Homo sapiens: one gene and its partners. The protein of the gene in region 1 purifies or fractionates together with the protein of each later gene. This does not show direct contact. Each region holds a gene or a part of one and is shown in the gene's direction. Other genes may lie near its edges.

The links.
Region 2: the proteins of MTM1 (region 1) and MTFR1 purify together in Homo sapiens (affinity purification with mass spectrometry, with the first as the bait; one large-scale study listed by BioGRID). This does not show direct contact.
Region 3: the proteins of MTM1 (region 1) and PFAS purify together in Homo sapiens (affinity purification with mass spectrometry, with the first as the bait; one large-scale study listed by BioGRID). This does not show direct contact.
Region 4: the proteins of MTM1 (region 1) and CHCHD3 purify together in Homo sapiens (affinity purification with mass spectrometry, with the first as the bait; one large-scale study listed by BioGRID). This does not show direct contact.
Region 5: the proteins of MTM1 (region 1) and VBP1 purify together in Homo sapiens (affinity purification with mass spectrometry, with the first as the bait; one large-scale study listed by BioGRID). This does not show direct contact.
Region 6: the proteins of MTM1 (region 1) and PTPN9 purify together in Homo sapiens (affinity purification with mass spectrometry; one large-scale study listed by BioGRID and IntAct). This does not show direct contact.
Region 7: the proteins of MTM1 (region 1) and EDEM1 purify together in Homo sapiens (affinity purification with mass spectrometry, with the first as the bait; one large-scale study listed by BioGRID). This does not show direct contact.

What each region holds. Positions count from the first base shown.
Region 1 is NC_000023.11:150,669,248-150,674,092, forward strand, and holds the end of MTM1 (myotubularin), read left to right. Parts: intron 1-2,180; coding exon 2,181-2,348; 3' UTR 2,349-3,896; downstream 3,897-4,845. UniProt on the Homo sapiens protein: Lipid phosphatase which dephosphorylates phosphatidylinositol 3-monophosphate (PI3P) and phosphatidylinositol 3,5-bisphosphate (PI(3,5)P2). Has also been shown to dephosphorylate phosphotyrosine- and phosphoserine-containing peptides.
Region 2 is NC_000008.11:65,675,734-65,679,233, forward strand, and holds part of MTFR1 (mitochondrial fission regulator 1 isoform 1 precursor), read left to right. Parts: intron 1-3,500. UniProt on the Homo sapiens protein: May play a role in mitochondrial aerobic respiration. May also regulate mitochondrial organization and fission.
Region 3 is NC_000017.11:8,265,913-8,269,083, forward strand, and holds part of PFAS (phosphoribosylformylglycinamidine synthase), read left to right. Parts: coding exon 1-105; intron 106-321; coding exon 322-441; intron 442-588; coding exon of another isoform or gene 589-611; exon of another isoform or gene 612-840; coding exon 841-986; coding exon of another isoform or gene 987-998; exon of another isoform or gene 999-1,115; coding exon 1,116-1,323; intron 1,324-1,459; coding exon 1,460-1,551; intron 1,552-1,638; coding exon 1,639-1,753; intron 1,754-2,620; coding exon 2,621-2,944; intron 2,945-3,041; coding exon 3,042-3,171. UniProt on the Homo sapiens protein: Phosphoribosylformylglycinamidine synthase involved in the purines biosynthetic pathway. Catalyzes the ATP-dependent conversion of formylglycinamide ribonucleotide (FGAR) and glutamine to yield formylglycinamidine ribonucleotide (FGAM) and glutamate.
Region 4 is NC_000007.14:132,791,716-132,796,037, reverse strand, and holds part of CHCHD3 (MICOS complex subunit MIC19), read left to right. Parts: intron 1-4,322. UniProt on the Homo sapiens protein: Component of the MICOS complex, a large protein complex of the mitochondrial inner membrane that plays crucial roles in the maintenance of crista junctions, inner membrane architecture, and formation of contact sites to the outer membrane.
Region 5 is NC_000023.11:155,226,194-155,230,515, forward strand, and holds part of VBP1 (prefoldin subunit 3), read left to right. Parts: intron 1-1,041; coding exon 1,042-1,108; intron 1,109-2,190; coding exon 2,191-2,289; intron 2,290-4,322. UniProt on the Homo sapiens protein: Binds specifically to cytosolic chaperonin (c-CPN) and transfers target proteins to it. Binds to nascent polypeptide chain and promotes folding in an environment in which there are many competing pathways for nonnative proteins.
Region 6 is NC_000015.10:75,464,011-75,468,332, reverse strand, and holds part of PTPN9 (tyrosine-protein phosphatase non-receptor type 9), read left to right. Parts: 3' UTR 1-4,322. UniProt on the Homo sapiens protein: Protein-tyrosine phosphatase that could participate in the transfer of hydrophobic ligands or in functions of the Golgi apparatus.
Region 7 is NC_000003.12:5,197,183-5,201,504, forward strand, and holds part of EDEM1 (ER degradation-enhancing alpha-mannosidase-like protein 1), read left to right. Parts: intron 1-2,409; coding exon 2,410-2,513; intron 2,514-4,322. UniProt on the Homo sapiens protein: Extracts misfolded glycoproteins, but not glycoproteins undergoing productive folding, from the calnexin cycle.

The sequences.
Region 1 (4,845 bases):
ATGTACTGCATTTTCTTTATCCAGTCTATCACTGATGGGCATTTGGGTTGGTTCTATGTCTTTGCTATTGTAAATAGTGCTGCAGTAAACATGTGTGCATGTGTCTTTATAGTAGAATGATTTATATTCCTTTGAGTATAATGGGATTGCTGGGTCTAACGGTATGTCTGGTTCTAGATCCTTGAGGAATCGCCACACTGTCTTCCACAATGGTTGAACTAATTTACACTCCCACCAACAGTGTAAAAGTGTTCCTGTTTCTCCACAGCCTCGCCAGCATCTATCATTTCCTGACTTTTTAATAATCGCCATTCTGACTGGCATGAGATGGTATCTCACTGCGGTTTTGATTTGCATTTCTCTGATGATCAGTGATGATGAGCTTTTTTTCATATCTTTGTTGGCCGCATTGTGTGTCTTCTTTTGAGAAGTGTCTGTTCATATCCTTTGCCTACTTTCTGATGGGGTTGTTTATCTTTTATTTTTATAAATATGTTTAAGTTCCTTGTAAATTCTGAATATTAGACCTTTGTCAGATGAGTAGATTGCAAAAATTTTCTCTTATTCTATAGATTGCCTGTTCACTCTGATGCTAGTTTCTTTTGCTGTGCAGAAGCTCTTTAGTTTAATTAGATCCCATTTGTCAATTTTGGCTTTTGTTGCAATTGTTTTTGGTGTTTTTGTCATGAAGTCTTTCCCCATGCCTATGTCCTGAATGGTATTGCCTAGGTTTTCTTCTAGGGTTTTCATGGTTTTGGGTTTTACATTAAGGTCTTCATATATTGCTTAAGCTTTCTAGAAAGTGCTTGCCCCTGATCCCTTCAAAACATTAACTTTCTGGAGTACTGTTCTGTTGTATATCTTGACCTGGGTGTGATTACCTAAATGTATACGTATGTCAAGATTCACTGAGCTGAACATCTGAAGATTTTGCACTGTGTGTGGTTTATATCTCAGTACAAAACTTTTAAAACTTAACATGCTGGGAGAGTCACGTTATGCTCCAGCCTGACTTCTGCCTTTGTATCAACATCAATCCCTTGTTTACTCATCAAAGTAGTCACCATTGTAGCAAAACAGATGCTATTAACTCACTTCACTCACACAATGCCATGTGAGGGCTATGCTGTTTTGATTCCCATTTTACAGATAGGGAAATGGAGGCACACAGAAGGTGAGGGGGCAAACCCAGCATTCATACCCAAGGCGGAGCATTGCAGAGCCGCTATGGCTGTCAGCCATGTATTCAGATGGGCAATAAGCACATGAAAAGATGTTCTAGCAGAGCAATACAAACGAAAACTACCGTGACATACCATGTCACAGCCCTCAAATTGGAAAAAAGAATAATAATCGTATGCTCCCAAGTTCTAGTGAGAATGCAGAACAATGGGAACTGCCAGGTATCACCAGCAGGAGCCTCTCTGCAGGCAATTTGGCAGCATCTGGTGAGGTTGAAAAGACCATATTCTACTTCTCAGCAGTTCCACCCCTAGGAAAATTCCTTAGAGAAACACTCGCATATGTGCTTGAGGAGATGTGTACAAGGATACTCAGTACAGCATTGAACACACTACCGAGGAGCCCTGGAAATCACTGATTACCCATCAGCCTGGGAAGGGGTGGAGAAACTGGTTTATTCCTTCAATGCAACTTAACAAGGATGAAATTCAGAAAACATGTTGGGTCAAAATGTCAATTGATAAATACCAGATGGTACCAGTGATGTAAACTTTGATAAAACACAAAGTAATACTGTATTTTGTTGCTGGATACTCACAGGAAAAGTGTCACAAATCTGCACAAAAAGGAAGGTCACATGGCAACTTGAGAAGAGTTGTCCCTCAGAGTGAAAGAGGACAGTGGGTCTGGGACGGGCAACACGGGAGACTGGAGCTGTGTCTCGGCTGACACATTTTCAAAGATAGTGACACGTGTGAGGAAATGTGTACATTAGGTATTTCTTGGTGAACAAATACTTAGTACTTGGGTGTTTAGTACTCTGTGTTGTACTTTCCTGTATGTGTCAATGAGGCAGTAGTTAAGGAAAGTATGTATTATGGTAAACTTTGAGTAAAGGGCTTATTTACAAATCAGCAGTCACAGCAGATGGGTGGAACACGTGAGTTCTCATGACGTGCGTGGCATAAAGTGTAACTCAAGTCTCTGGTTCTCTCCAGCAGCCGAATCCAGTGGAGCAGCGTTACATGGAGCTCTTAGCCTTACGCGACGAATACATAAAGCGGCTTGAGGAACTGCAGCTCGCCAACTCTGCCAAGCTTTCTGATCCCCCAACTTCACCTTCCAGTCCTTCGCAAATGATGCCCCATGTGCAAACTCACTTCTGAGGGGGGACCCTGGCACCGCATTAGAGCTCGAAATAAAGGCGATAGCTGACTTTCATTTGGGGCATTTGTAAAAAGTAGATTAAAATATTTGCCTCCATGTAGAACTTGAACTAACATAATCTTAAACTCTTGAATATGTGCCTTCTAGAATACATATTACAAGAAAACTACAGGGTCCACACGGCAATCAGAAGAAAGGAGCTGAGATGAGGTTTTGGAAAACCCTGACACCTTTAAAAAGCAGTTTTTGAAAGACAAAATTTAGATTTAATTTACGTCTTGAGAAATACTATATATACAATATATATTTTGTGGGCTTAATTGAAACAACATTATTTTAAAATCAAAGGGGATATATGTTTGTGGAATGGATTTTCCTGAAGCTGCTTAACAGTTGCTTTGGATTCTCTAAGATGAATCCAAATGTGAAAGATGCATGTTACTGCCAAAACCAAATTGAGCTCAGCTTCCTAGGCATTACCCAAAAGCAAGGTGTTTAAGTAATTGCCAGCTTTTATACCATCATGAGTGGTGACTTAAGGAGAAATAGCTGTATAGATGAGTTTTTCATTATTTGGAAATTTAGGGGTAGAAAATGTTTTCCCCTAATTTTCCAGAGAAGCCTATTTTTATATTTTTAAAAAACTGACAGGGCCCAGTTAAATATGATTTGCATTTTTTAAATTTGCCAGTTTTATTTTCTAAATTCTTTCATGAGCTTGCCTAAAATTCGGAATGGTTTTCGGGTTGTGGCAAACCCCAAAGAGAGCACTGTCCAAGGATGTCGGGAGCATCCTGCTGCTTAGGGGAATGTTTTCGCAAATGTTGCTCTAGTCAGTCCAGCTCATCTGCCAAAATGTAGGGCTACCGTCTTGGATGCATGAGCTATTGCTAGAGCATCATCCTTAGAAATCAGTGCCCCAGATGTACATGTGTTGAGCGTATTCTTGAAAGTATTGTGTTTATGCATTTCAATTTCAATGGTGTTGGCTTCCCCTCCCCACCCCACGCGTGCATAAAAACTGGTTCTACAAATTTTTACTTGAAGTACCAGGCCGTTTGCTTTTTCAGGTTGTTTTGTTTTATAGTATTAAGTGAAATTTTAAATGCACAGTTCTATTTGCTATCTGAACTAATTCATTTATTAAGTATATTTGTAAAAGCTAAGGCTCGAGTTAAAACAATGAAGTGTTTTACAATGATTTGTAAAGGACTATTTATAACTAATATGGTTTTGTTTTCAATGAATTAAGAAAGATTAAATATATCTTTGTAAATTATTTTATGTCATAGTTTAATTGGTCTACCAAGTAAGACATCTCAAATACAGTAGTATAATGTATGAATTTTGTAAGTATAAGAAATTTTATTAGACATTCTCTTACTTTTTGTAAATGCTGTAAATATTTCATAAATTAACAAAGTGTCACTCCATAAAAAGAAAGCTAATACTAATAGCCTAAAAGATTTTGTGAAATTTCATGAAAACTTTTTAATGGCAATAATGACTAAAGACCTGCTGTAATAAATGTATTAACTGAAACCTAACACTGTTTTCAGGGCTGTGAGTGTGCATGTGTTGGAAATGTGCATGGTGGCCATCTGATTTCTTTGCCCGGGTCTGCTTCATGTACTTTTTATCTCACCGGCAACCTTGCAGGGCTCTCCCAAAATTTCAGCAAGATTGGGCATTTAAGTGTATTAAACAGTGCAGATTTTAAGAGTCACGACTGTCTATGAGGATGGCTTTTGCAAAAGTGAACGCGCAAAACTCCAGGCTCTGAATAGGGAACACAGCAGTTGATAGTAAGGGATGCGAAGATACTGGTTAAATAAGCCATAGTTGACGTCTCATTAGGTAAGAATTTTTAAAATTCTTCAAACAATATTGCCAGTTGGAGATTATGTCGTTTACATATGTACGTTCTAAGAATGCTGAATAGTTGTAGCAGTAAACTAAAATTGACCATTTTTTGGCAATCAGAATAGATCACGTGGAACAGAGCTTAAAGAAAAAAAATCAGAATAGGACTCTTAAATGACTAAGTGTATCTTTCATAACGATGAGTATTTGAAGTGCTTTGTGAAGTCCTTCCTCAGACATTGCCTCATTGAACCCTCACTAGGACCTTATGAGCTAGGGGGCATTCTGTTACCCCTATTTTTCGACTGAGGAGAATGCTGTTGTTGCAGGCGTTCACTGACATGCCCCACGTCCTACAGCACCACCACAAGTTTCATACTGGTGTTAGCCTGAAGTCTACATTTGAGTTCCCACTGAATGGCCTGAGCTCTGCCTTCTTCATTGAAATTGAAAGAACCTCTCTTCCTGGGACAACTCTTCAAATAATTCGGAATCATATACTTTTTAGTATAGGTTTTGTTTCTAAATATAGTCATAGCACTTTCTGACCTGTTTTTGATAATGCAGCAAAGCTTATCCTTTTGCTTTCTTGGAGGGAATAATATTCAAAAAGTCTCAGAATAAGCTGAGTAG
Region 2 (3,500 bases), on another chromosome or scaffold:
TTTATACAGGCAGTAAATTCGTAGAGGCTAATTTTAAAGCCAGGCCTATATGCTATAATGGCCTGTTTTCTCTTTACTGTCTTTTATTTTCCCTCAACATTTGTTTGAATTTAAAACTACATGCTCACATATCTCCAAACTTTTTATGTCCCTAAGCAAAAATGTTTTTTAAATTGCAGGAAGTGAGAATAGTGTGAAGCTAATGTGATTCTGATTAATTTCAGTATTTTATATTGGAAGAAAAGTTACTATAGCAAGTATCTATAATAATTTGTATTATTGTACTCTGGTTTTCTTTTGGTGCTTTGGAGGAGGAATGTGAGTAAGGAAGAAGAGAACTGAGGGAAGTGTTAATCTTTGGTTAAGGATTTAAAAATTGTTACAGAATTTCATCTTCCCATTTTCACTCCTTCCCCCTTCCCAACACACACTTTTAATTTTCCCTTAGCTCCCTGAGAATTAAGAATTTACATTTTGTTGGGTCCTAACTTTTTAAAGATCTGATTAACAGTATGGATGCTCTTCCCAGAAAAGTAACACATACACAATTTTGTGTGTAATTTTAGGGATACATGAACCTCTGCATTAATGCATTAATATCACATAGCTTGTCTTGAAAAATATATTTTATTTATTTTTGTTTGTTCTTTGAGACGAAATCTTGTTGTGTCCCAGGCTGGAGTGCAGTGGCGCATTCTTGGCTCACTGTAGCCTCTGCCTCCCGGATTCAAGTGATTCTCCTGCCTCAGCCTCCTGAGTAGCTGGGATTACAGGTGCCCGCCATCACCCCTGGCTAATTTTTGTATTTTTAGTAAAGACAGGGTTTCACCATGTTGGCCAGGCTGGTCTCGAACTCCTGACCTCAAGTGATCCACCCTCTTCAGCCTCCCAAAGTGCTGGGATTACAGGCGTGAGCCACCACACCCAGCCAGAAAAACATATTTTTCTTAGAGTTAAATTTATAGTTTTTCCTGCTAAAAGTTGCCCTCAAATAATAATGTATGTAAAACTAGTCTATAATAAATGAATTACCACATACAGCTTGAGTGCAGTCATCATGGATGAGACAGATGACAGCTTCAGATTCCAGCCTCACACGTCAACACTTTCTACAATAGCATTTCACAATGTTAAAAAAGAACAAACTACTTTCCTGTTGTCATCCTCCTCCTTGCTGTCATCACTTTCAAACACTGTTGCTAAATGTTATGGACTGTCATTACTAGACACAGACATGCATGTGCGCGCACACACACACACAGATTCACTGTTAGATTATTTAAAAAAGCAGTTTTCATAGATAAAGCATGGTTTTTCTGTTTAGCTATTTCTCTCTTTTTTTTTTTTTTTTTTTTTTTGAGACAGAGTCTCGCTCTGTCACCCAGGATGGAGTGCAGTGGCGCGATCTTGCTCACTGCAACCTCCACCTCCCGGTTCAAGCAATTCTGCCTCAAGCCTCCTGAGTAGCTGGGACTACAGGCGTGTGCCACCACGCCTGGCTAAGTTTTTATATTTTAGTAGAGACGGGGTTTCGCCACATTGGCCAGGCTGGTCTCGAACTCCTGACCTCAGATGATCCACCCGCCTCGGCCTTCCAAAGTGCTGGGATTACAGGCATGAACCACTGCGCCTGGCCCTGTTTAGCTGTTTCTTTTTTTTTTTTTTTTTTGAGACGGAGTCTTGCTCTGTCCCAGGCAGGAGTGCAGTGGCACGATGTCAGCTCACGGCAACCTCTGCCTCCCAGGTTTAAGCTATTCTCCTGCCTTAGCCTCCTGAGTAGCTGGGATTACAGGCGTGCACCACCACACCTGGCTAATTTTGTATTTTTAGTAGAGACAGGGTTTCACCGTGTTACCCAGGCTGGTCTTGAACTCCTGAGCTCGTGACCCGCCCACCTCGGTCTCCCAAAATGCTGGGATTACAGGCGTGAGCCACCACGCCCAGCCAGCTATTTCTTAATGGCATTGGATTGTCTTATTTTCTAAATGAAATTGGATTATCTTGCCAGGCTTGGTGGCTCACGCCTGTAATCCCAGCACTTTGGGAGGCTGAGGTGGGTGGATCATGAGGTCAAGAGATCGAGACCATCCTGGCCAACATGGTGAAACCCCGTCTCTACTAAAAATACAAAAATAAGCCAGGTGTGGTGGCACGTGCCTGTAGTCCCAACTACTGGAGAGGCTGAGGCAGGAGAATTGCTTGAACCTGGGAGGCAGAGGTTGCAGTGAGCTGAGATCATGCCACTGCACTCCAGCCTGGCAACAGAGGGAGACTCTGTCTCAAAAAAAAAAAAAAAAAGAAATTGGATTATTTTATGACCATTTTCTTCTCCCTGCCTTCTCTCTTTCATCTAAAGAAATATTAATGACAGTTTGTCTTTAGAGGAAGTCTTTCCTTCTCTAAACTAGCATACTGACAAGACATAGTTCAGCCACAAGTTACGGTAGGAGATGCACTTGGGTCATACAGCCTCCCAATGCACAGATGGTGACTTTTCAGTACCATCTGTTCACTGTTTCTGTACAGCCATTTACAATTTCTCCCCCTCTATGAGGGCTGAATAGAAAAAAATAGAAAAGTAGTCAGACCTAGTTTTAGAGTTCCTGGAAATTAGCTATTCTTTCCCCTCACTTTTTCCTACCATCCAATAAAGGTTATGGCTCTTCATTCTAAATATTTCAGTCATTAGTTTACACAGACCCTTATTTGATATTTATTGGTGCTAAGTACTATGTAATTCACAAGTAACAGAAGAACACATTATGTTAGTCTACTGTGTATGCTTGAAAAAATAATCACATAAAGCAATCTGTTCTTTTCCTTCCTTTAACTTTGTAGAAGATACCTAAATAATCTACTTATTCCTTATAATTAAAAGCTGAATCGGCTGGGCGTTGTGGCTCATGCCTGTAATCCCAGCACTTTGGGAGGCCGAGACGATTAGATCACCTGAGGTCAGGAGTTCGAAACCAGCCTGGCCAACATCGTGAAACCCCGTCTCTACTAAAAATACAAAAATTAGCTGGGCATGGTGGCACCTGCCTATAATTCTAGCTAGATAGAATTGCTGTAACCCAGGAGATGGAAGTTTCAGTGAGCCGAGATCGCACCACTGCACTCCAGCCTGGGTGACAGAGCGAGACTCCATCTAAAAAAATTTAAAAAAAAAAGCTGAATCATTGGCCACTTCTCTTGTTGAAGGCACCTAGTATTTTTCTGATATTAAACAGATGGAAACATAATAGTTGACATTTCACCCTGCAACATGCGTAGTGAAGAATGCTAAAAGCAGGCAGAAACATAGTTCCTGACCTTGGCAAATCCTTTCTAAATTTTTCTTTGTGAGCTTTTTGTCCTCTTCATCTCCAGACAAGACCTTTGCTTGCTGGAGGGGAGAAAGATTCACTTTAGACTGTCTAATTGTCACGTTGTAATGCACAAATAGCATTCCACTTGTACTACATCATAGGAGAATTTTGACTTGTGACTAAATAGAAGAC
Region 3 (3,171 bases), on another chromosome or scaffold:
CAGCTCTGGCCCAGTGCTTCTCCCAGCTTGGGGAACACCCTCCAGACCTGGACCTTCCTGAGAACTTGGTGCGGGCCTTCAGCATCACTCAGGGGCTGCTGAAAGGTGAGTGAAGACCCCTGGGGAGATAGCGCACAGGGTGCCAGGCGTGCAGCAGGCGTTCACCATCTGAGCAGTGGGGCAAAAGGGACTCCAATGGACGATGTACCCCAGATCCCCTGACATTCTGACACACACTCTTGATGGACTGACTCCGGAAGGTGGGGTGGGGCTGTCAGGTTTGGGTCCCGAGGTTGCTGAGCTTTCTTCTCCTTCCTCCAGACCGCCTCCTCTGCTCAGGCCACGATGTCAGTGACGGAGGCCTCGTCACATGCCTGCTGGAGATGGCCTTTGCTGGAAATTGCGGGCTACAGGTGGATGTGCCTGTCCCCAGGGTTGATGGTAAGGAACCTGGGGTCTAGTCTCAGGCCCGGGCTGCCTTCTCTACCCTGCAGACCCCATTTCCAATATATTAAAGAGTGGAGTGCCCTCCAGTCCCCTTTCCCTGAGTCTTCCCTGACTAGCTTTTCTGTGCTGTCTCTCTGACAGCTGAACTGGATGGAACTGGCTGACACCCACCATGTTCCTGACTGCACCCCTCTGAGACTTCCCATCCCTGAGATGTCCATGATGAAACATCCTCAGTCCTGCCGTCCTAGCCCTCATCCTCCCTGATCCCTACCCTACTCTCTGGCTGCATCCCTCTGACCCTCACCCTGGCCCTTCCTGCATTTCCCTGATCCCGCCCCAACTCCCTTGGCCCTTCTTGCATCCCCCTGACTCCCCACATTGCTCTCCCAGTCCTGTCTGTGCTGTTCGCTGAGGAGCCAGGCCTCGTGCTGGAGGTGCAGGAGCCAGACCTGGCCCAGGTGCTGAAGCGTTACCGGGATGCTGGCCTCCATTGCCTGGAGCTGGGCCACACAGGCGAGGCCGGGCCCCACGCCATGGTGAGGAAGTGAGGGAGAGAGCGGTGTGCAGTGGGCAGTCAGAGTGGGGTGGCCGCGGTCCATCCCTCTCCCACTGTGGAGGGGGCCATCCTTTCTCCTAGCCCGTGGGAGATTTGTTCCTCTTCCTAGGTCCGGGTGTCAGTGAACGGGGCTGTGGTTCTGGAGGAGCCTGTTGGGGAGCTGCGAGCCCTCTGGGAGGAGACGAGTTTCCAGCTGGACCGGCTACAGGCAGAGCCTCGCTGTGTGGCAGAGGAGGAACGGGGCCTGAGGGAGCGGATGGGGCCCAGCTATTGCCTGCCCCCCACCTTTCCCAAAGCCTCCGTGCCCCGTGAGCCTGGTGAGGGAGTGTGTGCAGAGGCTCCGCGTCCTGGGGGCACTGAGCCTGGATGCCTGGGCCTGCCCTCAGAAAGGTGTCTGGGGAGTTGGGGTGGGGAAGTGACTTTCTGGCCCAAAGACACTTATTCTCCCCCAAGGTGGTCCCAGCCCCCGAGTCGCCATCTTGCGAGAGGAGGGCAGTAATGGAGACCGGGAGATGGCCGATGCCTTCCACTTAGCTGGGTTTGAGGTGAGCAGGGTAGGGGGCAGCTGGGGGTGATTGTCCAGCCTCAGCTGCGTGTCCTCCCACCCACACTCCCCCTCCCCACCTTCGCAGGTATGGGACGTGACCATGCAGGACCTCTGCTCTGGGGCAATTGGGCTGGACACTTTCCGTGGCGTGGCCTTCGTGGGCGGCTTCAGCTATGCAGATGTCCTGGGCTCTGCCAAAGGTCAGTGTGCAGGCTTCTGCCCACTCCCTTCCCCCACATTCCTGAAGAGGTGCCTTTAGCCCCATCTTCCTGGGCTGGGGATTGGCCTCTCACTCCACCGAGCTACGAGAGAGTGGGCCCATTCGTTCTGGGCCACATGCCAACAGAAGGCTGGTAGTAAATTTTTAATTTTTTCATTGAAAAAAAGTATATATATACACATATGTAATTAAAATATATATTATTAAATATATATTATTTATATATATTATTTATATATTATTAAAATGTATATTATTTATATATTATTAAAATATATATTATTTATATATATTATTTATATATTATTAAAATATATTATTTATATATATTATTTATATATTATTAAAATATGTATATTTTTAAATATATATATATATATATATGTATTTTTTGAGACGGAGTTTCACCCTTGTTGCCCAGGCTGGAGTGCAATGGCGCAATCTTGGCTCACCGCAACCTCCACCTCCTGGGTTCAAGCGATTTTCCTGCCTCATCCTCCCAAGTAGCTGGGATTACAGGCATGCAAAAATACAAAAATTAGCCAGGCGTGCTGGCGGGCGCCTGTAATCCCAGCTACTTGGGAGGCTGAGGCAGGAGAATCGCTTGAACCCAGGAGGCAGAGGTTGTAGTGAGCCGAGATCATGCCACTGTACTCCAGCCTGGGTGACAGAATGAGATTCCATCTCAAAAAAAAAAAAAAAAGAAAGAAGGAAAGGAAGGAAGGAGGGAGGGAGGGAAAAGGAAGAAAGAAAAAAGAAAAGAAACAGAGCAGTTATGCCCCTTCATTCCCAATTCCCTTTTTTGAGGTCCTCCATGTCTCACCCTGACTTCCCTATTCCCTGCTAGGGTGGGCAGCTGCTGTGACCTTTCATCCCAGGGCTGGGGCTGAGCTGAGGCGCTTCCGGAAGCGGCCAGACACCTTCAGCCTGGGCGTGTGTAATGGCTGTCAACTGCTGGCTCTGCTCGGCTGGGTGGGAGGCGACCCCAATGAGGATGCTGCAGAGATGGGCCCTGACTCCCAGCCAGCCCGGCCAGGCCTTCTGCTACGCCACAACCTGTCTGGGCGCTACGAGTCTCGCTGGGCCAGCGTGCGTGTGGGGCCTGGGCCAGCCCTGATGCTGCGAGGGATGGAGGGCGCCGTGCTGCCCGTGTGGAGTGCGCACGGGGAAGGTCAGGCCCAAGGAAGGCTGGGGGAGGGCCCGAGGGTTGGGGGCAAGGGTGGGCATGAAGGACCTTGGCTCTCACTTCCCTCCTCCTTCCATCCCAGGTTACGTAGCATTTTCTTCTCCGGAACTCCAAGCTCAGATTGAGGCCAGGGGCTTGGCTCCACTGCACTGGGCTGATGATGACGGGAACCCCACAGAGCAGTACCCTCTGAATCCCAATGGGTCCCCAGG
Region 4 (4,322 bases), on another chromosome or scaffold:
AAAAAAAAAACAAAACACCACCGTTCAGTCACTGTCCAACGCTTCCACCAGTTGATAGAGTTCACTTAGTTGGACAGGGAAAGGGAAACCAGAGATAGCATTTTAAAAAGAATTTCCACTGCTTTTATAGACCATAGCCATATTCTTCTCTTGACCCTTCATATCAGAACAATATGATGTTCACAGGACGTGCATTTTCTCTAATTTATGTACTTTAGAAAGCTAATGATAAACCCTGAAGCAAATTATCAATTCTGGCAGGTCACATAATTGCCTATCATTTAACCAATTTAACAGTTGGATATGGTTGTTCTGAGAGGCAGAAATTGTTGGAAACGTTGATTCCTTCTGCTGACAAACTCCATAGATTTGACCTTCTAACCCAACTAAATCTAGTGTTTAAGTTACACAGCATGCCTTTCTGCAGTCTAATTTGATGTAGTTATAATAATATCACTTGGTGTAAAATTTTTATACTCTACAAATATCCGACGGGAGGGTTAGTATTATCTGGATAGCTGGAAAATAAAGTAACATTAGTGGAAAGAATATAATCAAGATTTATTAAAAGCCTATGTTGTCCTCAAAAGCCTAGTGGCTGGCAGCTTTTTTCTGTTTCTTGCTTGTAGCTGCACTTGTATAACTCTTAGTAGTATGCCAGGGATCCTTTTCATTAAAGGTCTTTGGTACAGGTAATGTTGCTAATGTTAAGTTAGTACGTTTTATTTGTCGAAAACAGCTTCTGATATGCTGTTAATAAACCCCAGCCTTCAATATGAATATGAACTGAAGGACTTGAGACTCGTAGGTTGATTCATGGATTTTTCTAACTTGATAATAGTGCCTTATTGAGCTGGTGGTCAGTGGAAAAGAGTGGTTGTGACAAAGTGTATGTTTCAATGCTGGTCTCTAACATACGTGCCTGTTTGTACCATGTGATTTGTAACATTACCACAGTGGCAGCTGCAGGGGCATTGGGAGTGCTGACCCCATCCTGCCTGTCTGGGTTGTGTTGAATTATCTACATATAGTCTTGTGACATCAATGGTATATATTTATAGGATAAAGCAAAGTTAACTTGTGACAAAAGCAAATACGCCACATGGCGCGATAGTGAGTTTGAATCTGGCAGACCTGGGTTTGTACCCTGTCCTTTTACCAGCTCTGTGACCTTGGGGCTTGAGTTTTCTCATCTGTAAATTGGGGTAATGTTGTGAGGATTACCTTTATATAAAGTATTCAGTAAATCTTATTTTTCCCCTTCTTTCCTCAGTTGCATTATTGTGCTGAAATTTACTAAACAGGTCAGCCAAAAGCATCAAATTATTATTAATGATTTCAAAAGAGACCCTCTTTTTTCCCCCTCACTCTCCAATCTTTTATGTTCAGCTAGTATGTTTGGAGTATCTATTGTTTTCGTGGCTCTTATATTCAGTTATTAGGAGGTGTATAATACAAGTTAATAATAAAAAGATAGAAGCCCTCAAACCTTTTTTCCTGAGATGGGCAACATTGAAATGGACGAGAACCAAGAACCTGCACCACCTTACATTTCGGCAGTAGTTAGGATTGCAAGGTCATTTCACATCCATTCTTTTACTTGTTTTTTTATGACAACCTGAGATGTAAATAGAGATGGTTTTATTTTCACCATTTTCCAGTTGAGAGCATTGAAACTCAGGGAAGTCACAATAGTGAATTTAACAGCTAGACCAAGATGTACCTTGCCATAAAAACAAAAAATTTCAAAATACATAAGTGGCATTTGGTTTTTGAGTGGGTAAGTTTGTGAAGGGGCATCCATCCATCATCCACTAATGCAGAAATAAGGCAGTAAGGGAAAGTGAGAGCGAAAGCGATAAAGGGAGGACACAGAATGTGGAAGATCTAATGAGCGGGGGACAGAGTCTGAAGGTCACACATGGGGAGTGGGTTGATGAAGCCCGTGATGAAAGGGGCAACTTGGCACTGGCCCATTTTAAGATCACGCCACAGTGGCCAGAAGGAGCTTCTATCAGTGTTTCATGAGCAGTTACTTTCCTTCCAATACCAGGTTGTCCTTTTGCTCCTTGTGAATTTAGGCTAACCTCATGACCCCAGCTGTGCCCCTGTTAAGAGACTCCGGCAAGATACGTAGTCCCGACTGCCTATTTTAGCAGTTCCTCATGGGCCAACTTCTTACATTTTCTTCTTATGTTTCCTGTTAAATCCAGAGAACAAGCTGGACATGCTAAACATGGAAAATACTATACATGACAACAAGCCATTAGGCAGTGTTGTCCATATCCGACACAGTGCAAGGGTTTCCCCCATGGAATAATTCCAATGGCTAAGTCCACTCCACTTTTAAATAACTCATAAGATTGGCCTTTCACGGGTTCCCTGGGGCATTGTTCTAGAGACTAATAGGTTTTACTGTTAGGAAAATTTCCGGATATTCCTTAGCCTTACTCTTCCTCTCTGCTTATTTATCCACTTATTCATATCAGTGTTTCTTCAGCTGTTCTTCAACAATTTCTCATGGGTTGACATGAGACATTTAGGCTATTATTTCTTGTGTATTAACTTATGTGCTCTTCATGAGGGTAAAGAGATATTAAATAGCTCTAATTATTATTTCTAAGACTTAAAAGCTACCAGCTGGCTGGCTGTATGAGATACAGCATTTACAAAGGAAGGAGCACATCGATTGATACATAGTCCTGTGTCTTTTGTTTCTCATATCTGCTTAGCCTCATAACTTTCTCAAGCTCAGCAAGATTGGATTACCTCTTCTTACCTTTGATACCTGGTTCCCATTCTATCTTGCTACACCTACCTAAGGTAGGAGAGGTGCTGCTTGTACCAAATAGGTCATGTCTCTTCCTCTGAGCGTGCCTATGAACAGGCATGCTTATGCACACCACCTACCTTACAGGAGAAATGGAAAGGAGCGGGAATGAGAAGCCAATAGTATTTGCTCATGGGTAGACCAAAATGTGCCCAAGTTCTGTTTTTTAAAAAAGGGGAAGGGTGTCGAAAGGGTTTGCTGTCAGATCTGCATTACGTCTGGGACCATTCCCTGGGACATACCACCTCTCTACTATTTACTTGTAGAATTGGGCTGCATTGGGAGTTGCTAGTCTAAGCATTTCAGCTTTTTCCCAGCCCTGCTGCTATTGACAGAAAAATGCAGAAGCTGGCTGGACCCTTCTGGCACATTTTGTGTTCACTGGGAGGGTGGGGTTTATAGGAAATACTGCTGCTGCAATCCTAATCTAATTATAGTGACTTGAGCTTCAGTTGCTTTGATAAACTGAAGGTTTGAACCAGGTGATCCATGAGGGCCATCTAGCTCTGTTATTCTAGGACTGATTCTGCTTTGAAGTATATAGAGCAAAAGATGGTGTGCATAAGCATGCCTGTTCATAGGCGCACTCAGATGAAGAGACATGGCCTATTTGGTACAAGCAGCACCTCTCCTTTTGAGACCTCCAGTATTTGTGCCTTCGCCTCTTAAATTTTGCTGTCCACCTTAAACGTTCACTCAAGAAGAACACTTGCATTTCTGATTGGTCTGCTGCTGCCTGGCCTCCCACTGCTACGTACCCTTTCTTTGAGGTTCACACTCCTGACAGCCCTGGGGAAGCCAAGGTGGCAGAAAGAACTGGGAGGGAATAGAAACAGTTTCACAGTTTCTCCAAAGTCAGTGAAGTGAAAAACAGCTGTCTCTGCACTGGCTGGCAGAATGTACCCTGCCGGCTAATAAAGGCCATTAGAAAATGCAGGCTCCCTCCAGCCAGCCGTAAGCCTCCCCTGGATCGTGATGCCTTTCATCCTGTGAAGTACCATGGGAAGTGTGACTCTGAAAACAGAGCAGGAAGCCAGGAACCTGGAGCCTGACAACCAAGGGCAAACTGGGACCAGAGGCAAGGACCAACCCCAGGAGATGCCCAAGGGACAGAGGTCAGTGTGGGACCTGCAGTTAGATGATGAGTCTGTCAGGGGTCCCCCAAACCATAGCAGAAGTTTCAGTCAGTAAGCAGGCAGTGGGACAGTAGCCACGCAAACAGTTAGTTCAGCTCACAATAAGGACGTCTTGTAAATGAGACAGCCCCACCTCAGACCTACATGCTTCCTGCTGATCTCTTTGGAGAGATCAGAAAGGAACCTGGCCACAGTGAGGAACTTGGGGTCAGGACCCAGTAAATGAGGCTAGATCCTAATGTGACAGCTCTCCAACTTAAGGCTAGTGCACCCCGTTGTCTCGTTTCTAAAATATCATTGACATCTCCAGTATTTGGTTGGCTTCCTAAGTCAAAGCCTCAAGATCAGTGCATATG
Region 5 (4,322 bases), 4.6 Mb from region 1:
AACACATGCATCTAATTACCATAAAGAGCTAAACCCCAGTGACAAAAACGGTATCATTGTTTTCTCTCTTTAATTGACTGAATGTTTTTAGCATACTGTTTTTCTCTTATGTTCTTGTCAGTGAGGTTGATTGCATTTGGGAGTCACTTACTAGCATTTTGCTAGTAGCTATCATATAACTTATCCATTAAGTCGGATCAGTTGTATCATGTCCATCATTGTTTTTTTAAATTTCTTGTGTTTAAATCAGTGATCCATTTATAATTTTAAGAACGATCGTTACCTCATTTGAAAAGAAGAGCATTTATCAACATAAAAGTTAAGGAAGAAATACCCAAAGCTTAAAAGAATCACTAAATTATACTGTATCATAATGTGGTGTGTTTGGCATTCAGATGATTCTGTACATTTTTCACAGTGTGACAAGTGCACATACTGAGAAGGTGTCACTGTGCTTTGCCTGGCATTTAGCTGACTGTGATGTACATGTGTGTATACCCAATGCACACACCAGGAGTAGCTATGTGCATCACTGGATAGGGGATTGGTGTCTTCTATTTTAGAATGTAACTTTTGAATCCATGTTATTTTTAAAATTAGTTTTAAAATTAATCTATTTAAAATTTCATTCTAATCAAATGCAGAACCTATGAATCACCTCTGTGGAATATAGTCTGCTCTAGAAATGTTAAATAGCCATGGGGTATTTGACATAATAGAACAGAGCTTTGTCTTCATGGAATGGGCATTCCATAAACATTCACTAGTATATCTTAAATATTTTTATTAAGTATTTATACTTTAAATATTTTATGAATATTTTACTAAATATATTTTCTTTTGGTGAATATTTCTTTAAATATTTTATTTTTATAAATATTTATATCTTATTTTATCTCATATCTAAAAATATCTTAAGTATTTTATATCTATAAATAGTCCTCAAGAACACATTAGTAGAAAATGCAAAGTTAGTAAGACCGTGTCCTGTTGTTTATTTTTGCCTGCAAAATACTAAGTTACTCTTTTTCTTGTTCACAGGCTAAAAGGTCAGATTCCTGAAATTAAACAGACTTTGGAAATTCTAAAATACATGCAGAAGAAAAAAGTAAGTGCATTTTTGTTTGTAAATATGAGCAAGCTAGGATATGTCAGCAGAAACTCGTCTTCTTTGACTCTTTGGTCACTGATATTTGATCTGTGCTGTGGAATCCAGTCTGCCTTCTTAAGCACATACACTAATGTTATGATGTGCTTCTGTAGCAAATGTGGCTTTGTGGCCTTCCCCCAAAAGTCAAGTTTAATTCTAGGGCCCACACTTGGATTACTTTGCTTATCTTTAGTGCTTGTGAAACTTAAATGCAATTTGAAATTGTTTTAGGTGTACAAAGAAAATGTCTTATTCTGTGCTAGCAGCATCTAGGGTTTTTTCTTTGTTGTTGTCTTTCTCCCTAAGAATAAGGAGTTAGTCCAAGATTTATAGAGCTGGAACGAATCTTAGAGATCATCTGTTACAGGTTCTCATTTCATAGTTGAGGAAATGGTTATGGAGAGGTTATACTCGACCATTGTCTATGTAGTTAGTTACTGGCAGAACTAAATTTGAGAGTCTTCTAAGTCTTAATCCAGTATTCATTAAATAAAAGCAGGTTGTAAAGATTAAATCTCATAAGCATATTGTATTTAAAAGATTGTGTGTATGCTTATGATTTTGCTTGACTGGTAGAATAACTATTTCTAGTACATTTTAATATGTGGTGAACTTTGTAAGACTTCAGCAACTGATTGATTGGGCATGAAGCACCAATGAAATAATAGAAGAATGGCTAATTCTTACAATAATGCCTTCTCTGTATGTCAGGCACTCGGGGGTGTGTGTGTGTCTGTGTATACTCAGTGCTTACCACTGACTTCATAGGTGTAGGGACTGTTGTAATCCTCATTTTACAGATGAAGAACCTGAGATATAGAAGTTAAGTGAGATGCCAGATTTGTACAGCTAGTGAGTAGCTGAGCCAGAGTCCATACCCAGCCACCTGGGTCTAGCATTCATTTCTTTTACCACTACACTTAGCCTGCATGATGGTACTGTTTTAAATGTCCTAGGTTCAACTGTGCAATCTCTCCTTTATAACCTTGGTATCAAACTGGCCTGTTTATGGTACTGTCATTTTTTTTTTTGTTTTGAAGGAGTCCACCAACTCAATGGAGACCAGATTCTTGCTGGCAGATAACCTGTATTGCAAAGCTTCAGTTCCTCCTACCGATAAAGTGTGTCTGTGGTTGGGGGTAAGTAAATGTTATAGCCACAGCTGATATATTTGTAAACCAGTGTGTTTTCTGTAGCAAACACACTGGTTTTGCTAGTATTTGCTAGTATTTTAGTAGTATTGCTCGAGATATGTAAAGTGTTCATCTCCTTTTGATTGTGGAAGGGACAAAGGGACAGAGTCCAAGTGGTTCATATTAGAAATTGACTAGAATCAGAAGTGCGATGAAGATCGCAGTAAAAACATACTGAAGTCTCTCCCAATCAAGATAAAACTGATCAAACAAACCCTGCTTCTCTTCCAGTTAGTGCTTTATCTCTCTTAAATATAATGGAGGAAGAGCAATAGAAGTAAAATAGAAGGTACTGCTGAACTTTAGATAAACGCTTCTTCCCATAAGAGTTTAATAATTCTAGAAAGATCCCTCTCAATTTAAGGGGAAAAAGAGTATTGCAAAAAGTTTGAGGTTAGAGTTTATTTTTTAAAACCATGTATTTCAGTTTTAGATGATTTCATTGAGCTTATCTGTGATTTACCTATTTTGCTCTTCTCAGTCCTCTGACTATCCAGCTACCTGTCTGTGGATCTTGTTACCTCAGGCAAGTTCTCATACAAAGTAGCAAGCCAAGTGTACTTCTACCAGCTGTCCTACGGGGAGGATTTCCCCTAGCTGCTGTCCTGTAGGATCACTCTGGAGAGGCACTCTAGATTAGCCCAAGGAGGTTTGCTCAAAGTTTGTACAACATTTATATTTCACTCTACAATCTGCATTTCAGTATTTATCTTTTATAATTTATCACTAAGGCTTTTTAAAAAATAACTTTGAAGCATAGCAACTACACCTGAGTGTCCAAGGATTCAATGATTTTCTGTATTCAGTTTTTTTGTAGAAATTGCATGACCTTTTGATTCACAAATTCAAGTGTTACTTTATTTCAGGAAAGATAATTTCTGTTGTGTACTTGAATGTGACTTTTGCCCCATTTCTTTTATTATCTTTTGGGAATAATAAATATGCATATGTTCGATCTCCTTTATCTGTTTTCAGTACCTATCATGTTCTCTGTTTTCAGTTATTCGATGTGTTTCATTCTGTGTGATTTCCTCTGGCTGCTTCCCCATGACTTTGTGTTTTCCCTGGTAGTTATTCTGTTTTGTTGCTTTTACTCTGTCTTTTGTAACTGTTCTTCTGTTTCTCTTTCTCTTCATTTTCTTTGCTGAGCTCTTCTTGCTCTTTTCATGTTTTTCTTCTTTCATTCCTCTTGAATGTTTAAATCCTCATTTCACCACTCATAGACTGGCACTTCCCACAATCTTCTCCATCTCAGTAAATGGCAGAATCTTTTGCCTGGTTGCTCAGAACAAAAATCTTTGAGTCTTCTTTGACTCTTCTTTATTTTATATCTCTCAACCAGTCCTTCAGCAAACCCCACTGGTTCCTTCTTCTGAATAGATTGAGAAGCCAACTATCTCTCACTTCCTTACTGCTGTTACCATGGTCCAGGCCACCTTTGTCTCTTGCCAGGACTGTGGGAATACTGTCTATTAGTTTTTAGGGATGCCATAATAAAATTACCACAAACTGGGTGGCTTTAACAACTGAAATGGACTGTCTCATGGTTCTGGAGGCCAGAAGTCCGTGATGAGCCCCAGAATCAGGGTCGATTCCTTCTGAGAGCTGTGAGGGAAAATCTGTTCTAGCCTCCTCTCTTAGCTTTGGTGTTCGCGGACAGTCTTTGGCATGTTGATGTGTAGAAGCATCACTGTGATCTCCGCCTTCATCTTCACATGTGTGCATGCATGTGTCCAAATTTCTCCTTTTGAAAGACCTTATCTCCAAATAAAGTCACATTCTGAGCTACTGGGGGTTAGTAGTCCAACTTATTTTTTGTTGGGGAGACAGAATTCAATCCATAATACCTTACTTCCACGTAAGGTCACATTCGCTAGTATAAGGGGTTAAAACTTAAATGTATCTTTTTTGGGGACACTGTTTAACCCATAATAATACCCTAATTCACTGTCTTGCTTCTGCCCTTGCTGGAATTCCTA
Region 6 (4,322 bases), on another chromosome or scaffold:
TATTCTAGAGATCGTCCTGAGTGCCAAGCACGTTTATAAGTAGGGCGTGTATTCCAGTCCTTTCTGTCATTCTGTGTGTGTGTGTGTGTGCACTTATGTGTATGGGTCCATATGTACGTGTGTATATAATATATATTGTATGTGATAATATGATCGTATTCTATAAATACATATACACACGATACTCCTTTCCAGAAGTTCCTGGGGCTCCGTGTTGCAGTTCAGGACTCCTTGCTTCTTGGACCCTACTATTTATCCTGGACTAGCTTGGGTTGGTGATCATGTCTCCTCTTGTCAGGCTACAGAGTGGTGGAAGAGGACACACACACATCTCCTCCATGTTCCTGCCACAGGGCCCCTTCCTTAAGTAATGACTTATCTCCTTCCAGTTGCCACCTGTTGGAGCCAAGAATGTATTAGTTTGTGGTGACACTGGGTTAGCTCAGCATGGATTTCCCTTATCCGATGATTTTTCTACATTTACTTGGCCAATTTGGGGAACAGACCTCCACTGTGATTCCATACTCTCTCTTTGCTTTCACTATCCCAGGGATGGGAGGCGGAGGGTAGAGATGAACTCACTGAGCAGCCAGAGCCAAATGCAATCGGTACGAATCTTAGAAGGAAGGAGGGGGAGCCCAGGTATGAGAAAGAAAAAACCACTAAGAAAATACCTCCCTGGGAGGATGAGCTGGGGCCCTTTTTCTTTTGCTGGATGGTTCCTTTATGCAGCTTGGCCCTGTCTACCGAGATGCCCATCTCTTCCTGCCTGCTAGCCTGCTAGACCCTCAAACTGGGTGGGTTCTGTGTCAATAAAAAGCTTCACCCCCTGGCTGAGTGAGGTGGTCCCCTGCAATCACTGTTTGTCCCCTACCCACCCAACCTGTCCCTGCCTGCTCCCAGCCCACTCATCCTTATGTGCTAGGGATAAATCAAGAGTCCTCAGCACTCCACATTCCCAAAAAATCCCAGGAACTCCTAAACCTTCCCCTGTGACAGAAGATGAGGTTGGCAGCTGATCAGACCTCAATAATTTTATACTGTAATAAGCTCTTTGAATGTGTATATTATTATTTTTTACAATCATTTCATTTTGTATTTAATATCAATGGACTGAGTCTGATTCAGAAAATAATTGTAATGTTCATATTCAATATCTTACAGTGATACAGTTTTGTATTTACATATAAATATACCGACATGATCAAAACCCTTTTAGCTTCATCAATTTAGCAGCCTGGGACATGAGGGAGGGGGTCCAGGAGCTGGTCTGGGAGGGATGAGGGAGGCAGGGAGGGACCCAAGCCTTCAGTATCTGAGACTTTGAGTTCTGACACTATGAGTTCACCTTGTCTGTAGGCCATGGCCCTATCTCTGGACAGAGGGACCAGCACCAGTTCAGTGCTTGAGATGTGCTAAGCACTATGCTAGGTGCTTTTCCCCCACCCTGCCTCATTCAAACCTCACAACAATTCAGTGAGATATTATCTTCTCTCCCTTCTCCTGTGCACCCCTTTCTCATTTCTATATAGATGAGGAAGGTGAGGTCCAGAGGGTTACAGTGATTTGCTCTAAAACGAGCTCAAGTTGGTCTGCTTACAAAGCCTGTGGTCTCTTCACTGCATGGAAGATGGAGATCTTGTGTTTGGAGAACAGAGGTTTGTTTAGCTCTCCTTTCAGAGTAAAAAAAGTTCTTAAATTCCAGGTTGTTGTTCTTGTGCCCATGCTTCATGTAGTAGACGCGAAGGGTGACAGGGTTGGTGACTGACTGTCCTAGCTAGGACCTCCTGATGTAGGGTCCTCATGTCTGCAGCGTACCAAAGGGGTTATCATTCTCCCCAGGAGACTCCATATCTATGGGTACATGGTCTTTGTGAGAAGATCTTGAGTCATTTGCATTTATCTCTTAGAAAGAAAGGAACCAGAAGCTTTGTACATGGAAGACCACTCCCCATATCATACCTGTTGGCTGTTGATGGCCTGCCCAGTTGGGGCAGTTGTGGCTGGGAAATATTGGGGTGTTCTTAATAATAGTCATAGCAGCCAATTTACTGGATGCTCACTCTATTCCAGGCACTGTTCAGAGTAATTTCTAGGTATCATCTCATTCACCCTCAACAACCTTTTGAGGTAGGTATTGACAGAAGAAAAAAATTGAGAGACAGGAATGTTAATTTGCTACAGCCAGGATCCCAGACCATCTGACTCCAAAGTATCTTCTTTCACCTCTTACACTAGACTTCCTCTAAGGATCCATCTTCTGATCTGCCAATAAATTTTTATCGAGTTTCTTACCATAATCAGGAGCTCAAGTGTAGAGCAGAAGATTAATCTAGTTCCTTCTCCAGATGAGCCTCCATTCTCTTGGGAGTGCACAAACATAAGAAGTGAACAGAGATTCTTGGAAATCTGAGAAACCAGAGAGGTCAGGGGTTTGGTGGAACATGTAAGAAATGGGATTAATGATAAACGGCCTGGAGGAGGTAACTTTAAATTGTCATTTATTTGAAGAGGCTGTAACCCGACTGCCCTGTGAATTTAAGGTTATGCATGAGTTCCTCATTGCATATCTGAAGACTGGTGAGGTTATCTATCACTTCAGCTCCATAAAATGCTGATTTCTGGGCCCATCCAGTAGGTTGTTAGTGAGTGACAGGATTATCCAGGTTTGGGAACCATAGATTTAGTTCATGTTTCTGACCCTATAGAGAGTTAACAAATTGATGTCTCCTAAATTTTCAGTAAAACTCAGAGGAACTCCTCCCACTGCCATTGTTTGTAGCTTTTACCAGCGTGAACCTACCTGTGTTAGGTGTTAAAGGAGGAGGTAAAGGAAAGGGAAGGCAGAGACGCAACCCAGAATCTGTTTGGCAAGTCAGGGTTCTCATACAGGAGACTTAGTGAACAAAGCAAGAGAAAATGCTCAGGGTCCAAGTGCAGTGGCTTTATGCCTGTAATCCCAGTACTTTGGAAGGCCGAGGTGGGCAGATCACCTGAGGTCAGGAGTTTGAGACCAGCCTGACCAATATGATGAAACCCCATCTCTACTAAAAATATAAAAATTACCCGGGTGTGGTGGTATGTGCTTGTAATCCCAGCTACTCGGGAGGCTGAAATGGGAGAATCACTTGAATCTGGGAGGCAGAGGTTGCAATGAGCCGAGATCGCGCCATTGCACTCTAGCCTGGGCAACAAGAGTAAAACTCCATCTCAAAAAAAATAAATAAATAAAAAAGAAAGACAGTGTTCAGGAAAGAAGAAAACACTGAGCTAAAGCAGGCTTCTGCTTCTGATTTGATGGCTGTTTGTTTCACCTTTCTCTAACATTCCCATGCTATATAATTTTTCAAACATGAGATAATCCCTGTGTCCTTTTTCCCATTGCTCCCTTCATCTTGCCCATCCTCATTGGCTAGGATGGGACTCCTGAGACGAAGGGTGCCCCAGCATCCTCAGCCTCGGAGGCCCACCCTTATCAGTCTTCATGTGACAGTATGCAGGTAAATGACAGAGTAGGACTTGTTCTTGGGAGAATGGACTATTTAGCATCATAGCCCTAGGGAAATTTGGTTCCTTCCCTGAAAGGAATGCTTCCTGTCTCTTGGGACAGACAGACACACATACAAAAACTTTTATAAATCAGAGACCTAGAGGGAATTGGGCCAAGAGGCATTGGCCAAGTAGAAAAGCTTCTCTAGAGTGACCCAGCTCTTTTGTGGTTTTGAGGTCTTACCACTGAACCAAACCCAAGTCCTAGGTTCCCTCTGTAAAAGAAGGGGCTACACTAGATGATCCTACCATGGGTCCTCTGACTGTCAGGGTCCAGTTCTTTGTTAGACAGTGCAAACACCCATAGAGGAGCTATTAGGCCTTTACTTGGGTTGAGTTGGCTCCCACTAGCACTCCCCACTTTTCATTTTTTTTACTTTCAGAGACAGAGTCTCACTCTGTTGCCTAGGTTAGAGGGGAGTGGCATGATCATGGCTCACTGCAGTCTCAACAACTGGGCTCAAGCAGGAACCCAGCTTTTTTTTTTTTTCTCTCTCTCTCTCTAGAGACAGGATCTCACTATGTTGCCCAGGCTGGTCTCGAACTCCAGCCTCAAGCAATCCTCCTGCCTCGGCCTCCCAAAGTGAGAGGATTACAGGCATGGGCCACCACACCCAGCCTCTCCAGTTTTAGTGTGTTTTCAGAGTCTCTTCTTTCAAGCTGCTGCTACTTCCCTAGCTTCCCTCAGTTCTCTTCCCCCTTGGCCTTCCAATTGGAGGAAAAGCAGGTCAGGTCTCTGTCATCTCCAAGACCAGCCTATAGGCCTTTAAAGT
Region 7 (4,322 bases), on another chromosome or scaffold:
ATGTTTGTTCAAAAAATGAATTCTGACTAATGAAGCATTTCCCAACACAGATTCCAAAGATACTTACTCCCTGAAAGAAGAGTTCTGTTTCTAAATGAACTTGAGAAATTCCGTATGTCTGGTCCCACTATTAGAGAGCCACAGTGCCCATCAGCATTTTAAAGACTCTGAGAAGTCCTACAGTCAAACAAACAAACCCATTTAGCTCCTCTGTCCCATTCAGCCATTTTCAAACATTAGTGTGATTTCAGAACATAGTCACTCAGGATTCTATAGCTATCTGACCATAATGATAAACTACAATAAGTAAGAGCTGTTGACTTCCTTCACCTTCCTCACTTGATTTGAGCTCCTGTCAGCACCTGCAGCTTCACCAGATATTGTTGCTGGTAAACATCTGTAAGGAAACAGACTCATCTCTGTGGTTTTCATTGTAGAATATCCGGCCTTTAGTGCTTCAGGCTTATTTTTCAGGTGTTACTTCTGTTGAAGTTTTCCTTTTCTTTTGCTAACATTTAAACAGGCTTTAACAGATGTGCTAGGGAAACACTGTGAAGATAGCAGTCCCCTGACCATTGGATGCAACTTGCAGCATTATTGCATCATCTTCTAAAAAGAAAGAACTGAAAGCTAGAAATGTCTGTACTTACTCTGTAGGTTACAGCAAAATAACGATGAGGTGGAAAAAATGTAGTTAGGCACAGCTTGGTTTTATACATTGTAGGGAGACATGAGACATCAATCAGTATGTGTAAGATGTACATTGGTTCAGTCCAGAAAAGTGAGACAACTTGAAGTGCTGGGGGTGGGGTGAGGGGGCACTTCCAAGTCACAGGCAGATAAAAGACAAATGGTTACATTTTTTTTGTCTTTTTTTTTTGAGACAGAGTCTTGCTGTGTTGCCCAGGCTGGAGTGCAGTGGTGAGATCTCGGCTCACTGCACCCTCCACCTTCCCAGGGGTTCAAGCAGTTCTTGTGCCTCAGCCTCCCGAGTAGCTGGGATTACAGGCATGCGCCACCACGCCTGGCTAATTTTTTGTATTTTTAGTAGAGACAAGGTTTTGCCATGTTGGCCAGGCTGGTTTTGAACTCTTGGCCTGAAGTGATCCGCTCGCTTTGGCCTCCCTAAGTATGGGCTTACAGACCTGAGCCACCGTGTCCAGCCGGTTGACTCTCTGATTAGCCTTTCACGGAATATACAGTTTACCTGTGACAAAGGTAGAGGAATAGTCACTTATGCCTTTGTCTGGCTTAGTGAATCTGCAGTTTTACATAAACAGTAGGGCAGAGGAAGCAATCAGATATGCATTTTTCTTAGGTGAGCAGAGGGATGACTGAGTTCTGTCCTTTGTTTGTACCTGTGAAGATAAACTGTCAATTTACATTGCCTGGGTGAAATTCAGCAGAATTGTTTTGAGGGGAAGATCTTGAGGCCCACAAGGAATTTCCTTGTAGGTAAATTGTAAGGGACGTATATAGCTTTTTTTTTTTTTTTTTTTTTTGAATCTTTGTAGCTATCTTATTTAGGAATAAAATGGGAGGCAGGTTTGCCTGATGCAGTTCCTAGCTTGACTTTTCCCTTTGGCTTAGTGATTTTGGGGTCCCAGAAATTTATTTTTCTATCACAGTATGTCCTTATGATGTCATTATAGTCTCAGGGTTGTCATAAAATTTAGAGTGGAATGAAATAATTTTGATTCAGGTTAATCTATAAAGTTTGATGCCCAACTGTGCTTCACATAGGAGAGAGTGGCTTAGTGTGACGTCGTATCTACATACCCAAAATAGGAATCATAATTCTAGATCACTTTTTAAAAAGGACATAGAGCTGATTATTCATATGTTTTGTTTCTTTTAAATCAGTCACTGGTTTTATCCTGTGCTCCAAAAGATATTACCACTATTTCTCAAAGTGTTTAGGCATCTGGATAACAATCAACAAGTTCATTCAGTTTTCCACATGTTTTGGTCTCCTGGGAGCCAAGCACCCAAGCTGCTGATTTATTTGAGGAGCAGAGAGAAAGACATATTTTTGTTTCTTCAGTTTTCTGATTTATTTGTATACCTGCCAGAAGTTTTAGAAACCACAATGCCTGGCATGTTAAATAAGATCATAGTGAAGTTTGCTGGAGAGTGGAGTTGGGAAGATGAGGAGTGCCAATGATTTTACAAGGAATTATTTTCACAGTTTTGTCCTTTGGAGACAGGACTCTTGAGTTGGAGGAAATGGGCCAGCCATGTGCTGGGAATATATGCTAAGAAATAACTGCTTTTCTGTCTCTTGTGTTTCTACTCCTATGGTAGCAAAACCACATACAGACATTTAGGTGACGTGACTGGGCTGCTGTGATGATACAGCCTCAGTTTCATTTCAAGTTGCTGTAATGACCTGTGTTCCTCTTTTTAAAGATAATGGGAAATTCATCCGAGTTCCAGAAAGCCGTCAAGTTAGTGATCAACACAGTTTCATTTGACAAAGATTCCACCGTCCAAGTCTTTGAGGCCACGATAAGGTAAAATAATGAATATTCATAAAATGAATTGGAGACTTCTTTTTATGTGTTTAAAGAAAAAAATACCTTTGAGGGTCTTTTTGCCACATGATCCAGGCAGGGAGTCCATATGGGCTTTATGGGTGCAGTGTGCATTTTTCATGTTCATATCTGTCAAAACTGGAACAATTATTTCAAAGTAATCACATTCCGGACTGAAGGGAAAGACACGTTTGTATTTTGTTTTGTTTTTATAGATTAAACTCTTTTTTTTTTTTTTTTTGAAATGGAGTCTCTGCCACCTAGGCTGGAGGGCAGTGGTGCAATCTTGGCTCACTGCAATCTCCACCTCCCAGGTTCAAGGCATTCTCATATCTCAGCCTCCAGAGTAGCTGGGATTACAGGCACTCACCACCACACCTAAGTTTTGTATTTTCAGTAGAGATGAGATTTCACCATGTTGGCCAGGCTGGTCTCGAACTCCTGACCTCAAGTGATCCGCCTGCCTTGGCCTCCCAAAGTGCTGGGATAACAGGCATGAGCCACCATGCCTGGGTACATTTATGTTTTAACGGGGGTGTAAAATAGGTGTCTGTCTAGTACAGAATTTCATGGTTTCCCTTTATAGTCTGATTTCATTTTCTTCTTTCACCGTGTCCTAGGACAACCCCTACATATTTCTGAAGGAAATGAGAGTTTCCCATCTTACCACCCACAGAAAATCACTGCTTACCATTTTAGTATATTTCTTTGTTAGGTATATCTCTCACTTCTATTTCTCTCTCTGTCTCTCTCTTTTTCTCTATTTGTTTAGTGGATTGGGATCATGCTGTATACCTAGTATATTGTATATTGCTTTTTTTGATACATTGTGGTTATTTTCCTGTTTACATCTTTTGAAAATTGTATCAACTGCATAACATTCCAGTTCACAGATGTAATACTTATTTAAAATTAAATTGGTGAAAACCTTTGTTCTGACATATATCACAGCCTACTTCAGATCTTTAGAATGGGACTTTATGGGTCTACAAGGACTTAGGTATAAGCTGGTAGCCTGCTGCCTCTTAGTAGGTCATTTTTTCCTCCTCCTCTTCACCTTGCCTCTTTACCAGATGTTACGGTGTTAGGGAAGTTGCTTGGCAGCCAAAACAACAAAAATTACTTAGTATTTGTTGTCTTACCTTTCTCTGTTTTTTTTTTTTTAATTTGAATTAAATTAAATTTTTTTTTTCATTTTAGAGCAGGGTCTTGCTCTGTTGCCCAGGCTGAAGTGCAGTGGTGCTATCACGGCTCACTGCAGCCTTGAACTCCTGGGCTCAAGCGATCCTCCCACCTCAGCCTCCCAAATAGCTGGGACTACAGGCAAATGTCACCATGCCCAGCTTCTGTTTTTTTATGAGTGTTTTCCCCAAGTGAAATAAATCAGGAGTAATTTAATAATACTAATAGGTAATATTTATTCTGAGAACAGTTAGTACACTCTTATTTTTTTTTTTAAGAGACAGGGTCCTGCTCTGTTACACAGGCTAAAGTGTAGTGGCATGATTGTAGCAGTCTTCAATTTCTAGGTTCAAGAGATCGTCCTGCCTCAGCCTCCCAAGTAGCTACTAGGACTACTGGTGTGTGCCACTACATGCGGCTAATTTTTTTTATTTTTAATAGAGACAGGGTCTTGCCTTGTTGCCCAGGCTAGTCTTGAACTCCTGGCCTCAAGAGATGCATCTCTCTTGGCAAAGTGCTGGGACTACAGGCGTGAGCCACCGCACCCAGCCAACTCCCTTTTCTTAATGCCCTAAGATTTAGATTACCAAAATTGTTACTATTTTA